Regions from separate parts of the Homo sapiens genome. Here all the other regions are linked to region 1. The links come from fine-mapping of genetic effects on gene expression. A gene starts in region 1. Each other region holds a variant in brackets. All regions are shown on one strand. Distances are from middle to middle. Region 1 holds the start of ANXA5 (annexin A5). Region 2 holds the start of LOC105377402 (a long non-coding RNA gene). Region 3 overlaps ANXA5 (annexin A5).

What was found. PIP is the estimated chance that this variant, and not a neighbour inherited with it, causes the effect. A credible set is the group of variants that fine-mapping cannot tell apart.
Region 2: its variant is the best candidate, but not a certain one, in a credible set for the expression of ANXA5 in skeletal muscle (GTEx, PIP 0.83).
Region 3: its variant is the best candidate, but not a certain one, in a credible set for the expression of ANXA5 in whole blood (TOPMed, PIP 0.74).

The regions. Positions count from the first base shown.
Region 1 is chr4:121,693,579-121,699,718 of GRCh38, forward strand. ANXA5 (annexin A5) reads right to left here and starts at 3,402. Exons shown (of 13, transcript NM_001154.4): 1 at 3,285-3,402; 2 at 3,003-3,046. The coding sequence starts at 3,011. RefSeq lists a silencer at 3,351-3,770.
Region 2 is chr4:121,645,208-121,651,347 of GRCh38, forward strand. LOC105377402 (a long non-coding RNA gene) reads right to left here and starts at 5,444. Exons shown (of 3, transcript XR_939167.3): 1 at 5,431-5,444; 2 at 4,384-4,429. The variant C/A (reference allele first, on the strand shown) is at 2,618.
Region 3 is chr4:121,672,856-121,678,995 of GRCh38, forward strand. It overlaps ANXA5 (annexin A5), which reads right to left. Exons shown (of 13, transcript NM_001154.4): 7 at 5,560-5,639; 8 at 5,039-5,095. Among named protein-coding and RNA genes, the nearest start is that of ANXA5, 21 kb to the right of the region's middle. The variant A/T (reference allele first, on the strand shown) is at 2,330.

The sequences.
Region 1 (6,140 bases):
ATGTAGGCCTTCCAAGGAGAACTGGATATTAGATAAGGAAATCAGGGTTTGCTGAATGCCAATGAATTGCTCAGTGGCTTGCAAAGCAGCCAAGTAGTTTTTGATCTAGTTCTTTCTCAGCAGCCAAAATGAACTTAAGAGTTAAACAGATAAGGAACCAAGAGAAATCACCAGGAGCAGCACAGGCCACGGGTAAACAGGTAACCCTGATCTAAGATCCCAAAAGTGAACATTAGCTCCAGAGAGACTTGACTTTAAAAAATGAATGGCATGAAAAGATGCAATCAATATCCAGTCAGCTCCTCTGGAAGGAGTTTCATCTCAAATTTATTTATTTACATTTATCCTGCTTGCTCGGCACAGGGCTTTTTTAAATTATTATAATAATTTTAAACCAACCGAAAATATTTCTGATCAAACCTTGTAACTTAAACATATACCATAGAGATAATTCTGATGTTCATGAGAACACTTGGACACAGAAAGGGGAACATCACACACCCACACCGGGGCCTATTGTGGGCGGGGGGGAGGGGGGAGGGATAGCATTAGGAGATACAGCTAATGTAAATATTGAGTTAATGGGTGCAGCACACCAACATGGCACCATGTATACATATGTAACAAACCTGCATGTTGTGCACACATACCCTAGAACTTAAAGTATAATAAAAATATATATATAATAAAAAATAAATAAAAAATAAACAAAAAAATTCTGATGTTCATGAAGCTTCTAATGAACAATTACGTAGCCTAGTTTTGCCTTCATGACATTCTTACTGCTCAGACGCCGCACCCAACTTTAATACTAAACTTTTTTTTTGAGACGTAGTCTCACTGTTGCCCAGGCTGGAGTGCAGCAGCGCGATCTCAGCTCACTGCAACCTCCGCCTCCCGGGTTCAAGTGATTCTCCTGCCTCAGCCTCCCGAGTAGCTGGGATTACAGTTGTGCACCACCATGCCCAGCTAATTTTTGTATTTTTAGAAGAGACGAGGTCTCACCATGTTGGTTAGGCTGGTCTCGAACTCCTGACCTCGTGATCCACGTGCCTCAGCCTCCCAAAGTGCTAGGATTACAGGCATGAGCCACCATGCCTGGCCAATACTAAATATTTTAACAAAATGTTTTACTTTCATGATTTCCAAAAATAGTAACAAAACTAGAACAAAATTTAACACTCTGTATCTTTTTTAAAACATTACTTGTAACTTTTATGATTAGTAAAAACTGTAGTTTTGATAGAAAACAGTCTTGGTGTTATATTGTCATAGGGCTCAGGTACATAATTTTATATGCAAACCACCATTCTCCTAGGTTTTCTATACACATGGCCTTTATGATACTAATCATTCTTTGAAATTATTAAAATTAATGTCCACAACTGGAAAATATGTTCGCTTATACTATTTGGGTAAACAGTCTACATAATGAAAAGGAATTGATGGACCCTCAGACATCACTGGGGAACTTACAAGAGATTCAAGAAACTGCTAAATGAGCAAAGATAGAGGGAATTATTATTCGATGCTTGTTAAATCTTCATGTACATCACCACACCAGCATATCAAGATAGGAAAAATATTACTCAGGAAAGTTAATTCCACATAAAAGTATCCTTTCTATGGAGAAGAACTTAAACCAAACTTTCCACTTGAAGTAATATGAGAATTGGTTTACTGTAACATTTAAGTGCAAAAGAGGAGGTAAGAATGGGATCACTGTGTAAGTTTCATAAAGTAATCAACTAATCTTAATCCTCCCATTTTCACTTGGAAAGGACCAAGAAACCTTTTTCAATTTTGATAAGTCAATCTGATAAAAAGTGAACTATAAATAAGAGACAGCATTGTTTTAGCAGTTAAAACACTTGTTTAAAAAAAACTATCTGGACTCTGACAAGCCGGTTAGATTGACAAGATCTGTGAAATCAGTTTTAGAGTTTTTAAGCCCTGGTATCTTATTCACAAAAGACTGTATAACATGGTCAATATTTAAAGACCTTAAACTATCTTCTCTTTCCTACATTTTTGATAAACATTAATAACAGTAAAGAAACCAGGCGCAGTGGGATTACAGTCCTGAGGCCGAGGCGGGAGGATCACTTGAGGCAAGGAGTTTGAGACCAGCCTGGCCAACATGGTGAAACCCCGCCTCTACTAAAAATACAAAATTAGCTGGGCATGGTGGGGCGCCTGTAATCCCAGCTACTTGGAAAGCTGAGACACGAGAATTGCTTGAACCCGGGAGGCAGAGGTTGTAGTGAGCGAGATCACTACGTCACTGGACTCCAGCCTGGGCGACAGAGTGAGACTCCGTCTCAAAAAAAAAGGAAAAAAAAAAAACAGTAAAGAAAGCCTGTAGTAGATTATCAATTTCTGAAACAGTCCCAAGGCAAATTCAATTGAGAACTCGTTCCACGAGTTCATTGCTTAAGAAAAACAGCGCTTGTGTTTAATCTTTTGGATTAAAAAAAAAATCAGAGCCTACGTCCTACAGTTTTAGTAAAACTGGGCTGAGCAACTGGAAAAAGCCAATGCTCAATCACAGTATTAAAATACAGAAAACTTTGCGGAAAAAAAATAAAGGAAGTCGGGGGGCGGGGTGGGGGGGGAATGCGTTCGCCTCACATGACCACGATGAGCTGTTCTTGCTCCGGTTCTAATTTGAGCTACTCTCTGGATTTTGGGGAAGGCCCACTTTTACACATTCACTCATGAAAAGGGAGCGCACACAAATCCGGCCACGTCACCAGCTGTTGCGCGCGAAGGCAGCTTGGCGGCGTCGGTGCTGGTTCCGGAGGGCGCTCAGCGGGAAGAACCGGGACACAGAAACGGGGGCAGGGAAGCAAAGGGGGAACAAGAAAAGTGGAAGCGATGTCCCCAAAGCAGGTTCCCTTTCCTCCTAAACTTTTTGGCTCTCAGACAAATCCTAAAAGTCCCTCGTCGCAGCATACAAAGTTGTGGGTAAATCCAGCGCAGTGGGGGGCGCACGGCCTTACCTGTGCCATGGCGACTACTCAGGTCAGGGGAAGGTGAAGCAGGACTGCAAAAGAGAAGAAACCTCGGGCTTAGCGCGCCATTTGCAACTCGTGCCCTCCCCAAGCGCAGGTCCGCGGGGACCCGGCGGCGCTCAGACAGCCCGGAGGGCCCCGCCACGGGGCCGACCCGCCCTCTCGCAGCTACCGGGACAGCTCTCGGCCGAGCGTCCGCGCGAATCCAGTGCCCCGCGACCACGCTCTCCTCTCCAGAAGGAGCCCCCTCCCCGGGCTGCGACCACTCACCCAGACTGTGGGACCCAAGTGCCCCGAAACCCCGGGAGAGCGGCGGAGAGCCGGGCGACGGTACGCGGGGCGACGCCGAGATGCAGACGCTGAAGGATCCGGCAGCTGCACCTAGACTGATCCAAGCAACGGAAACGCCAGCGGCCCCACCCCGGCCCTGCCCGGCTTGGCCCGTCCCACCCCCGCCAGGGCCCCAACCGCAGGCCGGCCGCGCCAGCCGGGCCCGCCCCTGCCCCGGCCTCAGCGCGCCTGCGTGGGTCGCGGCTCGTCCCAGTTGGTCTCCCGCGGCGCGGACTGTCCCGCTGGTCTCGCGGGCCTGGGTGGGGAGCGGCCGCAGAGCTGCTGGAACCAGGAGGAGGCGCCGCTCCCCCGAGGGCCCCGGAGACCTCTTGTCCTCGCGCCGCGGGAAGGGCCTGGGGAGCTGTCCAGGGCTCGGGGTTTTGGAGGTGCTTGAGCCTCCCTGCCCTCTGTGACCGCAGGAACCGTAGCCTCACTTGGGTGCTCAACATAGTGCGTGGGCGTCTTTTTGGAGGCGAGACAAAATCATCGCAGCTAAGGACAGCGCGCCTTTGTCGATGGGATAGAAAAAACGTGAAAGGAGGGCCGTTTCCCAAGTTGTTTTTGTTTCTGTTTTGTTTTGTTGTTTTGTTGTTGTTTTAATGCCTATTATTGCTTCCTAGATGGCCCTCTCTTAAATGTACAGCCTTCTAGTAGCGTATGTGGGCTATTTGAAAACCTCTGCTTCCAATCAGTTTCTGTTTTCAAAACTAGCCTAGAACTTTAATATGACTTAAATTTGAGCAATGCCTCATATTGGTTCAACATAAAATATATGAGTATATGAGAGAGAGGGGGAGGGAGGGAGAATCTACAGCGTATTGTACTAGCATGGTGCTGTGTTCTGTGAAAGGGCTTTATATGCAAAGCAGCCCCCAAACGCGAAGGAGTCAAGAAACCAAAGAACGAGACAGACAAATCCAGTCTGTAGGTAATAGGGGTGCTATTGGAGGATGTGGTAGACAGAAGCGTGGCCTTGGGCGGCGGCAAGCAGATAAATTTCTGCACTGTTACTCCCCAGACCCTGGCCTTATATACCGTAAGGAAAGAGTATACTGCTCTGTGCAAGACAATTAAAGGCAGCCCTCCGGAACAGGTGAGAATGCCGTATGCTTCATAGCCTACAATGTGGGCAATAGCATCAAGGTTGACATGTTCTTATGCTAAGGACAGTTTAAAAAAAAAATCCTAGGAATCAGGAGGTATTCATGGGACTGGGGTTATTAAAGGTCAACATGGCGGATTAGCATCCGGGATATAATCACTTTTGTCTCCATATGCTGGAAAAGGAAAAGTAGAAGACACAGGGACCTTCTCAGACTTACTGGTGTGGGGAGGGAAGGTGCCAGGGCAGAGGGGGCAAGAGGACAAGTTTGCGACACTAGATGCAGTGTTCTAGACATATGCTAGAATGGGAAGGGCAAAGTGCTTCTCAACGTGGAGGTTAAGGGTAAGAGATGAGGATCTAGTCTTCTTTGAGAATGAGGAAGAATAAATTAAATGGACAGCAAATGTGGTTCTTTGTATAGAACTTCTCATTCGCTTTCACGTGTGAACCACATGCCTATTCCAGCCCTGACAAAGTCACAACAGAGTGGTTGTTCTCTGGGAAAGGAGGCAAAATTGCAAAATTTGTGGAGCTTGCCAACCCCATCACCCCCACCCCACTGGCGGGTTGCCTTTCCTCTGGGAGCCTCCTCTCCACCAGCCCAGCTGTCTACTCAGCCTCAGGCTCTCCCCAAGTCAGCACCTCCCCCGGGTTTTCTTTACAGGTATTAATATATCTGAAGGCAGCCCTTTTCTGAGCATCTGTCTCCGTTGCTCCAGCTTTTCTACTTTCTCTCTGCCCTGCACCAAAAGCAGGACCTGTAGTCTTGCCTAGAGCATTCTTTTTTCTCACCCATATCCACTTGAACTCAGTTTGCTTCTCTCACTTTCTACTCTCACATTAATGGAGTTAAACAGGACCTCAGAGATCCTGTATTTAACAATCATTGATTTTACAGGGACATGAGACTCATCATGGGTTAGTGACTTGCTCTATGTCCTGCAGCTAAATACTGACAAAATCGATGAGTTATTGGACTCAGAGTCTTGAAATACTCCAGGTAGCATTTCTTTCACTTCCAGTAATATCAGTTTATTCAACTCCTACTCTGGACCAGGCACAGATCTAGGTGCTGGGGTAAACACGGCAAGTGAAACAAAGGCCTTGCCCTCATAGGTCATACATTCTGGTGGAGGAAACAAACAATAAACAAGTATCTAATATGTCCTGTGTGATGCGTGGTATAAAGAAAATAAAGGCTAGGGAATGGAAATGAAGGGAACACTTATTTTGCAAAGGTGATATGAAGCCATTTCTGAGAAGCCTTGAACAGAAACCTAAATTGATACAATTTAATTGTATTTGACAACTATACACTGAGCACCTGTGGAAAGGCCATACCTAAGAGTTTGCACCTTAATATTATAGATAAAGCATGTATATGAACACTACAATGAGAGACTATAAATCAGGAAAGAAATGCCTAGAATGCAATCAAAATGCAATTAGTTTCAGAGGAAGGAGCTAATATTTTGTCAGATGGTTGACATAGCATTTGGATTAGGCTTTTGAGAGAGGATATTTTATCAAACTATGAAGGGGAGAAAGGGTGGTCTGGTTAAGTGAACTGCAAAACCAAGAGAAGGAAAGTATCTCTTTGTGTCTGTGTGATTTGAACTGTCTAAAATGGCTGGAGTGGAAGGTACAATATTAGAGTTGAGAGATGTAGAAACTAAAACACAAAGAAGCTC
Region 2 (6,140 bases), 48 kb before region 1:
CCAGGAGTTTGAGACCAGCCTGGGCAACATGGTGAAACCCTGTATCTACTAAAAATACCAAAATTATCCAGGTATGGTGGTGCTTCTTACTAGGACTTTCATCCATATGTTTGGTATCACAACTATTTCATACTTTATTTTCTTATGCATTGACAGAATGAAACACAAGATGTGTATTGGTCAGAACTCATGGTTACTATTAGTTTCTTTTAAGATAGTTAAACTAGTTTACCTACCTTAAACAAGTTTCTTTCTTTGTGTCAAGGACACTTTCTTTGTGTCAAATACAGTGTCAAAGATGAAATTACCAGAATATGGGGATAATGAAGTCTAAACAAAAATAAGATAATTATTAAAACATGAAATGGATACCCTTCTCACCTTCCTCTTCACCAGATAATCAGGAAGGTGAATACAGTAAACACCTCTTTGATGGCTACCTATGGAGGTGGGTATCCAACAGCCATGACTGTTCTTAGTAACTTTACTGCACAGCTATAGCTTATTGATGCAGGAATGGTCAGCTAACACAAGCTGGACCACTCAAATACTGTCATTTCCAATATTTGAAATTTTGAACTGAAAGACAGAGACAGGGAATTGTTGGAATGGAGTTATAGTAATGGCAACACATAAGGGATGAAAAATTCATGTATTCCTGCTGCTAAGTTCCCAAAATATACTCAGCTGTTTTCCATCATACTCAAGATTTAGTTGTTATTTCCCCTAATTCTTTGAGATGAATCAGTGTTGGTTGTTCATCCAACAGTCATTTTCTTCCCTACCTCTTCCTTGATAACAGAAGCCCTAATTGGTCATTTGTCTAGGAGTCACTGGGCCCCTTCCCAGACCCAAGGCAGTGAAGTTAAAGCCAGGTATGAAGAGTCTCATTCTCCTTACCACTGATTGGTTTATGCACAGGTACGCTACAGAGCTTGGGATAAAGTCAACTTTGTATCACCCAAGCTTTTTATCATCCCCTTCCCCCCTTATCTGGATATCGTCATATCTGCACATGATTCCTGGAACACCTAGAGGCATCTTAAAGCCACAAGGAGAGACTCGCCAACAGGCTGTGGTTAGAGAGAACAGCTAGACAAAAGGTACCTGAGTCTCTGATTGAGCTACTGAATTAGCCAACTCTGGGACCTCTGGGCTTCTTGTTACTTGAGATAATGAAGGTCCATATTATTTAAGCCAGATGTAATTGTGTTTTTGTTTACTTTGGGGTTAAATAAAACCAAGTGATATATCCAATATACTCACGATCAATTTCTTTTTTATACAAAGTACCTGAGTTTATTTCTGCTACTTGCTACCAAAGACTATAAACCAGTAGATTGTGGAACTGTGTGTTCCAGGTTTTACCAGGCTGCATGAACAAATGAGGTCACCTTTACATTAGTACTCCAAACACTGATGCTCTCACCCCACACCTGCTTGAGTAGCAGAAAATTCCATGTTTTATTTATATGTTTCTCCTTAAAGGTTTTCAAAAATCTCATGGAAATTCTTAGACTTGCTAAAGATTTACTAGTTACTTGTTTGTTTTTCATTATAATTTTATCAAATAAGCATGTGTTACTAAAATTATTATTTTAATTTTGTCTCTTCTTTAAAGTTTATATAAATTAAATCATAATATATGTATTTTATATCTTGATTCTTTTTTCACTCAACAATGTATATGCAAGATTTATTCACATTATTTGGTGGAGCTGGAGTTTATTTCATTGCTGAATATTCCATTAAATGATATGTAATAATTTAATTTATCCATTCTACTCTAGATATAGACATGGGTTATATCCAATATTTTTCTTGAATATTTTCTGTCCATGGTAGAATTACACTGTCTTTAAAACTGTATATTCTATTTTCATCACTTAACATTTTAGCATAAGCGTTTTTGTGTTGTTAAATTCTATTCCTAAAGATTATCTCTAACAGCTGTATAACACTTCATTATGTGTACATACTATAATTTATTTAACCATTTCCCTAGGGTTTTCATTTAGATTGTCTTCAATTATTTGTTACTATGAATAATGTTATAGTGAACATTTTTTACACAGATTTATATCTGCATTTCAAAGCATTTCCTTAGGTCATTTCCAAAAACTAGAATTACCATGTCAAGCAGTATAAATATTTTAAATCAAATTTCCCTGCAGAAGGGTTGGACTCATTTATTCTTTCATGAGGAAGAAATGAGAGTGCCTATTTCACCTCATCCTTACAAGCACTAAATATGCTTGCATGTTGTTCCCTCTCTCTCCTCCCCTCTCTCATCTCCTTCAAGGGTTTTGATACAAACCTTGATCACTACTTGGTCAGGTACCAAAAAAGGACTTTTTATGTATAAGAAATTCTAGATGAATTAGACCTTCAAAAAGAAAAAGCATTCAACAATAATAAATAAAAATATCCCTGGATTTTTAAAGAGAAAAATAGAAGAGGAAGGAGAATAAAACTGTGGCCGAAACTAACTAGACGCTCACCAAACACACGTTCTCTTCTAAGCACACAACAAAATTACATTAACTAGTCTCCCTTACATTTGTGTCTATAACAGAGTTCTAGCTAATGGAAAATGGGGAGAAGTGGTGCATGCCAA[C/A]AAAACTTCCCATACATCACCCTACTTTCTCCATCTATAGGCTAAATGGAGAAAATTCTAAGGACATAGAGGACAGAGCCATAAAAAGAAAGGAGACTTAGTCCCTAAATGATTACATGAAATTCCCTAAATGATCACATAAAATTCCTCCCATCCAGAAATACTCACACTGAAATGAGTGAGGAATAGATTTGATAAGGTTAAGTGTCTGAGAATTCTGGATTTAGATATTAACAGCAGCTGGAATTGTTTATCTTAACTATCACAAAATATTTATTGAATAATTACTATATTCTAGGTGCTTTGTTAGATGTGTTACTTATGTTTCCCTGTTTAATCATTATAGCAATTTTATGCAGAAGTTCTTATTAGTACCATCTTGAAAATAAGTGATTTTCCCAATTAAAGACAAGTGATTTGCCCAAGAGGGAAGAGTCAGAATTTAAATCTGAGTTCCTCTGATGGCAAAGGCCATGCTCATCACACTATCTCATGCTTGCTGTAAGTGTTTTATATACAGAGGCTGTATAAAACACATAGGGACTATGGTGCATTCATTCAACAATCAATCATTGAATGCACACAGGATCTTTTTTTTTTTACATATGTAATGGGGCCTACATCTTCTCATCTCTAACTTATATCTCTTATAAATATAGAAATTGAAACTTAGTCATTTATATTTAGCTAATGTCATAATAAATTTTTTCATATTTTAAATATCAAGGCCATGTATTTACATGTTTTGAGTAGAGGAAAGTGAGGTGGGGCCATAGAAGGGCAGTAGAGAGATTCCTTCTCGATGATTTTGGGCCTGCATCCCGTTTCCAAGTCCCATGAGGTGCCTGGAATGTGGCAAGGCCTTTGACGCAGTGGCTGATGGAAAGCAATAGGGGATGGGGAATGTTGTAGAGCTGCCTCTTAAGTGAACCACACAGCAAGTCACTACAGTGGACTGTTCAAATCACTATGGCATGTTTTAGGCTGCCTGTGCCTCAATAATAACCTACACAAATTTAGCAATCCTGTTCCTAAAGAGAAAATAATCTGTGAATACACACCTTAAAGCTCCAAATTTACAGAGCAATGTCTATCATCAAAAATTAATTTTAGGTATCTTCCTTTTAATTAGCTTCAGCTAATTAGCTGCTAAACTGTACACTACAGATGCTTCAAATTTGCCCCACAACACTAAGATGAAGACATTTCATGCTATTATCTCTTTTTAAAAATCACATCATGTCAGAATCTAAATTCCTCATCTTTCATATTAATAAAATATTTCCCCAAACTTTATCATGCTTTGTGAGTCACCCCCCCTTCCTCGATATCACAAAAGAAATTGGTGGAGCTTACACAATCTCGTTATATATATATATAAAGGGCTTCTAAGGTAACCAGTTCATCTTTGCTCTCTGAAAAGATACAAGTTTAGATGATTCACTTGAAGGAGCAGCTCCAGAACACTCCCATTCCTCAGTCCCTACTGCCCAAATCAGTGACCACATCAAAGACCTTGCCATCTTCCAGGGTACTTCATGGGAACTGGGACTGGAATACAAACCAATCCCACAGAAAGGGCCCCTCTGTACTCTCCCTGCCATCTCAACCTTAGGGCTCTACCTCACCTTCTCTACTCAAAGCCTGCCTTCCTGCTCAGGGGTAATACTACATAATCCCCTCATCCTACTTCCACTCCTACCACCCAAAACTCATGAACCAGAGACGCTTCTCACGGCTCAAACCTAAGGGAACACAACACCAACCTTTTCTTTCTGGATTTCAGTGAGGAAACGAGATCTTAATTCCTTCCTGGTGAGGATTCAGCAGCAGCAACAACAAAAGAAAAAACAAGAAAGTAATAATAATGATGCTTTCACATATATAAAAACAGAACCTAGCAATACACATTGATAACATAAAACTAGTCATTTTACTTAAGATTATATTTTAATAAAGAGCCACTAGAATCAGGATCTTCTCAGCATCATTCATTAACTACTCAGGAATGGTCTGCTTCATTCATCTCACAGGCAGTCCCACATTTATTATTCAGCAAATGTTTGTCACATGCTTTCTACATGCCAGCCATAGCACTGGAAGCTGGGGATATAAAAATGTCCATGCTTGAGCATTTCCTCTGTCCAGGTGTGCCTTCACAATTATTAACTCATGTTAGTTCTCAATGAAGTGCAACAATATTATCTTCATTTTATACATGAGGAAAACATCAGAGAAATCAAGTAAACTGCTCAGTCATAGAGCTGGTAATTGGTAGAGAAGGGATTCTAACTCAGTTGGTCTGGCTTGAGAGCCATACTCTTTATCAGTACTCTAGTGAGATATATTAGGTATTTCTGTATAGCACCCATATTAGCATAATGATTGCCAGAACACCCCATCCACATCCCCCTACTGAACCCTGGGGTTTCCCATTCCAGCATCCCTTTCCCTAAGACCCACCTAACTCAGATGCATCCCGCCATCCAGGATCCTCCAACCAAAACCCTGATCTGCACTTCCCCAGGGTAGATATAGACCTTTAACACCCTAAACACTAAAAAGATTTTGGTGGGCATTCCCAGCCAATATGTACTGAAAAACACAATTTAATATTTTGAAATGATACAAGCTTAACTACACAGTAAGAAAAACCATTTCATTCAGGCCAGCCGTGGTGGCTCATGCCTGTGATCCTAGCACTTTGGGAGGTCAAGACTGGGGGATCACTTGAGCCTAGGAATTCGAGGCCAGCCTGGGCAACCTCGTCTCTACAAAAAATACAAAAATTAGCTGAGCGTGATGGTACACACCTGTAGTCCAAGCTACTCGGGAGGCTGAGGCAAGAGGATCACTTGAGCCTGGGAGGTCAAGGCTGTGGTGAGCCGTGATTGGACCCCTGCACTCCAGTCTGGGTAACAAAGTAAGACCCTGTCTCAAAAAAAAGGAAATAATTTTGTTCTAAATTTTTAGATATAAATTTATATGAAAGTTTATTGAAGCTGAATCAACATCTCTTCGTTTTCTCCCCCTTTTTTCCCTTTTGTCTTCCTGACATAAGTTTACACTTAATGTAGGTAATCCAGTCCAGCCCAGTCTGGCAAGGTATTTAGGAGGCCCACAGGGGAGGCTGCTCCATTAGACTGAAATTACTTTAAGCTCTTAAGCAGAGATTACTCTTCTCCACAAAAAGAGATGATCCTCAGTAGCAGTGATTATCTGTAATTTCTTGAAGTTCTTATGAACTCTAAAATTCTACGTGGCTCTAGCTGTTATAATCATTGTTTGCTTAGGTTTTTTGTTTTAAAGAAGGAGAAATGAAAATACCATGGCCTTAGTCTTCTGTGGAGTTTTTGGTTTATGTCTGCAAAACATTGTGCTCTGCTTGATGATAAATGTACCCATTATCTTAGTTAGAAAGATAAAGAAATATATTTTTAAAGTTACATGAATCTATTTCTTTACCTCATCAACAAAATTCCTCCTATTACCTCTCTCTCCAATACATATGCTTGAACTTTAT
Region 3 (6,140 bases), 21 kb before region 1:
AAGCACGGCAATGGTGCAAGGTTACATGTTCCCAAAATGTCTGCCATAACCTCCAATCTTTCAGAAGCAACAGTATGGGTCAGGAGAAAGTTATGACTACCTCACTGTTGATACATCCATGTATAGACTGGGAAAGGATTTAACTGGAAGCTAAGTTGTCTGCCTTTTCTGTTTTGCTTGTTCTATAGCTGTTCAATAGCACATGAGTAAAAGTACACTTCATATTTTCTCTTTACAACTGAGATTTAACCAAGGCTAGCTATAAAATGTTTTCATATTTCCAAAGATCACAATAAATTTTTAAAAGATTGTGGGTATAGCACAGTGCCTGGCATATAGAAGCACTCAATAAGTAGTGGTTGAATAGTTTGAGTGCCCATACTTCCTTTTTGACATGGGGAAAAAATATGCTTTCTTGTGCACGTATAGCTGCCTAAAAAAATAAGCTTATATACAAACATCAACGTTAACTCTGAATCCACTTATTGACGTGAGAATAATTTATTAAAACCCAAAGAATCAACCTTTACAATGACTGTACTATCCTTTTATTCATTTCAAACTAAGTCTACATATTAAAGCAAGATGAATGCAATTTGCTGAGGCTGCTACTTGCAGTTGGCCTTATACCCACAAGCAGCAATCCAAATAAAGACAGGAAGTGATAATAACAGGCTTGAATATAGAAGTTTTGATCACAGTATATTTAAAAATGTAGATTATGGTGGTAAAGATCTATTTTTTATTATATTTCTGGAGAATAAGAAAAAAATGAGACTCATGTATCTTTATGCTCAATTTTAAAATTAATTATTTTAAAGATAAAAATGAATAATATCAATTCTGGCCATGTGAACATGCTCTTAAAACCTGAAAAGACAGTAACTCTGAAAGTCATGCATGCATCTAAACTTTAGAACTATATCATGATGACACAGACCTTTCTTAAAATAACTTTTAAAATTTAATTACAAAAACAACGCAAGTTCATTGAGAAATTTTATAAAACTAAGAAAGAACAAAAATAAGAAAATAGAAGTTGCAGGCTAGGCATAGTGGCTCATGCCTGTAATCCCAGCATTTTGGGACGCTGAGGCAGGTGGATCGCTTGAGCCCAGGAGTTCAAGACCAGCCTGGGCAACCTGTCAAAACCTGTCTCTACTAAAAATACAAAACTTATCCAGGCACGGTGGCAGATGCCTGTAATCCCAGCTACCCGGGAGGCTGTGGCAAGAGAATTGTTTGAACCCAGGAGGCAGAGGTTGCAGTGAGCCTAGATCATGGCACTGCACTCCAGCCTGGGCACGAAGGAAAGGAAAGGGGAAGAGGGAGGGGAGGGGAGGGGAGGGAGAGGGGCGGAAAGGAGAAGGGAGGGGAGGGAGAGGGGAGGGGAGGGAGAGGGGATAGGAAGGAGAAGGGAGGGGAAGGAAAGGGGAGGGTAAGGAAATGGGAGGGGAAGGAAAGGTGAAGGAAAGAAAAGGAAAAAGGAGAAAGGGGAAAGAGAAAGGAAAGAAAAGAAAAGTTGCTATTTAATATCAATTTCCTGAGGGTGCTAGTTACTACTTCTGGTATGTTTCTACATGTAGATAAAATATACAAATACATTAACACCTAAATGGGTAAAGGACTCATCTTGTACAATATCACAGACATTGATGCACACACTTCTTATCAACTGTTTTAAATGTCTAGAAATGTTCTCTAGTAGGTACAGGAGTTAAGCCTGTTATATGGGAATAATTGGTGAGATGTCAGTTATTTTTACCACAATGTTTTAATTTTCTTGGGAGAATTATGTTTGGGATCAATATCTACTGTAAAACTATTATTAAGTAATCATATGCAATAATAATGATGGCTTCTTCATGTAAAACAATGATATTTAACAGTTTTGTTTTAATCTAAGTATCCTTTCTCCTAAATGAGGATGCCCAATATTCATGGATCCATCTGGATGAGGGACCCTTACACCCCTTCCCTAAGCTTTACGGTTCAGCCTGAGTACAGTTTCATAAGCCCTGGTTCAGTGCAAAGGATGAGTCTTTGGAGTCAAAACAGATGTGGTCTATCTGCAAGATCTCAGATGAACTACTTAATCTCCTCTTCAGCCTCAGTGTATATAGTCATTAACGGAGATTATATAACTAAGATAATGCACTGAACAGTGTCAGGTAATCAGTAGCAAATGCCCAGTAAAAGTAAAAAGTGCCTGATTACTTCTCCTTCTCCCTCTTTCCTCTAAGAGTTCAACTCTCCCTCCAGAGAAAGAATAAAACAAGGATTTACTGGGGAAGAAGGTAAATCTGTTTTAATGCATTAAAAGTATTAA[A/T]TCAATTTAACACATTAAAAATGTTAAAAAGTGGATTATCTACAAAACGTTCAGTTCCCAAGTGAATGACTCACTATGGCTTATCAAACCTCTCAAATAATAGAAATCTTCTTAGTGCCAGGTATCAGTAGAGACAAAAATGCAAAAGCTTATAAAAGAGCCCTTTAGCTGTCTCAGCTTACTCTCAATTAAGAAATCTCAAATTCTCACTAGTGATAACAGTCCAGCTGCCCTTGCTACGAGGTACAAGTTGGTGTGTTCCTTTTTATAATGCCAAAAGATTATTTGTTTTCAACAGGTTTATTAATTAATAATAATACATTTGAAAGAATCAAAAATAATAGCCAGTGTAACATGTTCTGTATTGCTCCTAGTCACTGGAAGGCTAAGAAAAGCTTGGATTCCATTCAAGGGATACTTTAAAGTAACTCCATAAAGCAGTTTTCACATGTACAGTCTCACATGTACTCTCAGGGTTCTGAATGGTTATATCCACTGCATGACACGTAAGTGTCACCTATACAGCCTCAGTAATCAAAGGACCAAGAATGCAGGCATTACCTGAGAGCATGTTCAAAATCCAGACTCCCAGCCCCTGCCCAGACCCATAGAATCAGAATCTGCAATTAAAGGTCCCAGGTGCGCCACATGCCCATGAAAGTTTGAGCAGCAGTGCTATCCAGTAAGTGCTCCAAGGACAGAAATCAATGAAAACAAGGTTAAAATGTACTGTTTTCCCCTCAGGAGCCTCGTGCTGCAGCAATGCTCTCATTACATCACCAACTATGCTGGGAAATCTGCCCTCTGCCTGTGAATGCAGGCCTCACTGCAGACATCTGAGAGGACTAGAGTTGGTTTCTTACACTGTGACCCTGAAAAGCTCCCAGAACTCCTATCCTACTCTTGACAGTAGGAATGAGAGAATCAGCACTATCTCCTAGCAAAGCCACAACCAATGCTTGGAAAGCAGTAAGATCACCTCAGTACTGAACAAAGCCCCTAACAGGAGTACAACTCTGTAGGGTTGCTCTAGCCCTCTTCCCGAAAGAAGGTGGAATTAAGCTAGATCTATGCTTGAGTTGATATTTAATAAGCCCTTTAATGATAGAGAAAATCAGGGAAGGCACTAATACTCAAGAACACTGAATATCTTACAGTGAAATATTCTTATAGTGAAATATTAATATTCAATAACACTGACTATCTTCTAGTGAAAGAGAAAGAGCTTTGGAGTCAGACAGGCCTCGTTAGGAATTCCAACTCCACTGCTATTCAGTGGAAGCCATGGGTTTGTTTCTTTATCCATAAAAGGGAAATTGCCCCTTTCTGGTAGAGTTATGTGCTCATTCATTCATCAGTTATTTACTGAGCACCTACTCTATGCCAGAAGCTGAGGATACAATTGAACTGACAGCTCAGGGGGCCCAGGAAGGCAGTGAAGTAAATAGATGGCTTCCAGAGAACGTGGCAAGAACTGTGACAGGAAGCCTGGGGGCGGGGGGGGGTATGGTTTTCCCTGTGAGGGGCACCTAACTCTAAAGTATCTAAGCTGAAGACTGACTCTTGAAGAGGACTCAGGTGAAGCGGGGTGGGAGGGGCAAGAGGGCAGAGAGAGCATGTGAGAGAGGCTGGAGGCATAAGTAAACAACACACAGATAACAAAGGGGCTTGTAACCCATTCAGGAACCCGGACTTTATCCTGAGGGCAATGGAACCACCAGAGTCTGAAGGGGCTGGACACAATTGGCTTGCATTTTCTAAGACAGAGTGAAGCAAGAGTCAAATACTGCACAGAGAGCCCTCGGTAAACATTCAGTTCTTTTTTTCTCTCCAGCTAGACAGAGATGACAGCATTCTGAAACCATTATAAAATCAACCTACCCAAAAGAATAACCGCTCTCCTCTTTCCTGTTAGCAAAGTGAGATCGCATATCCATGGGTTGTTCCACTGGAGGAATGAATATGGCTCTTCCTTTTTCAATGATACATGACAAACAACCAAGAATTGTATATTCTCTTAATTGAAACATGTGACCAGAAAGAGGTCTATGATTGGTGGTTCTAGGAACCCAAGTAATTCCTTTATTACCAATTTCCAGTTTTCAGCTCTCATGTTTCAAATTTCCTTTCCTATATTTTAATAACTGTTTTATTAACCAGACTGAGACTTTATAGGGGTTTATAAGTCACTTAAGAGGAAATTTTCATTTGGAGTCACTAAAAAGCTGCTGACAGAAGACCAATCCTACTTAAAATTCTGTCGAAGGAAATGCAGAGAAATTTCCTAATACCAAAATAACTTGTCATCTCTTATGTAATTAAACACCACTTACTGTTAAATACTTTATTCTTTCTTCTTTATCTTCTCCTGCTAAGAGACCCACTGCATAATTGGCAGTGGAAGTAATAACACTGTTTTTTGGTAAAATTCTCTATTTTGTGAATGTTCAATAATCACAAAAAAAAACATGTCTAGTTGGAACTCACTATATAATTTATTTTATTTCGTTTCAGCTTTAAGGTAAAATATTTTGCTGACCAGGTCAGAATAAGAAAAAGCTACTTATGTAGGTCTTATGCTATGTAAATAACCCATTAACAAGATTATCACTAGAAGCTATTACAACATACATTGTGATTTTTCATTACCATGAATTATTTCTTCATTTCTACAGCATAATAAAGTCATCATATCCTGGTGTCACTCACCTGAGCATCTTGTTCAACTTGAGCTTCATCAATTCCAGCATCAGGGTCTCTGTTAGCCTATGAGAGGTAATATGTCACATTACTGAACTATAGAGCATTCTCATTCAAAAGGAAAAATGGTTCCACCTGATGGTTATTCAATAACACTCTTTCTCTAGGAATAATATGCTTTTATTAAGATCAATCCTGCACTATTTCACGTTATCATCACCCAGCACTGTCCAAAACCAATAATGACCCTACTGATTTTAAATTCTATGAAAGAACAAGATACCGCTATCATTCTATGAAAGGAACAAGATACTACTATCTAAAACATGTATGAGTTAGCTGTTAAGAATTTAGACCAGATATTCTGAAACACAAACAAGCACAGGCAACATACAGTCAGAATCATCGCAGTAAGAATCAGCAAGTACCACAAATTATTAAAAGAATTTTAAGTGACCTTACTTAACTAGATTCAGCCCAGTCCAACTTCAGGCTTTTTAATCAAACTGTAATTAATCTCCACGCAATACCTGAAGGAGAACCACCAACATCCGCTGGTAGTACCCTGAAGTGTCCCCCACCACGTCATCTTCCAGGCTTGAGCCATATTCTGCAACAAAATAATTTCATACTTATTTACATCTTCTTTCAACTAGAAAAGTAATCTTGCCCCATTAATCAAATGAAAGCGATGTAAAAGAAGAAATAATTATATTTGGTTAACATAAATTCCCTCTATTCCATCTCTGAATGCTCTAAGCAAATGCTTTCAGTGAGTGGTTGGACAAAAATGAATTAAAGTCTCCCAAAGGCACTCAATTCAAACTTAAATCAAGACTCAGCCATTTAGAAATTCTCTCGACCAATGTAGTCATTAATCTATAGATACATGATGGTACTGGAAAGTCTCCAAAACACAATCAATCATAAGCTTAAACTCTGTTTTGCTTTCTTTCAAATCTTTTATATGGTTAGCTTCCAAATGTCTTCTATCTCTAATATTCTGAGATTTATTTCTTTGGGCATGGCCATCACTCCTAATAAGGTATTTTTCCTCTGCAGAAATAAAGTTAACTCTTGAGAGACAGCAATGATATTTTAAAGTAGGCCC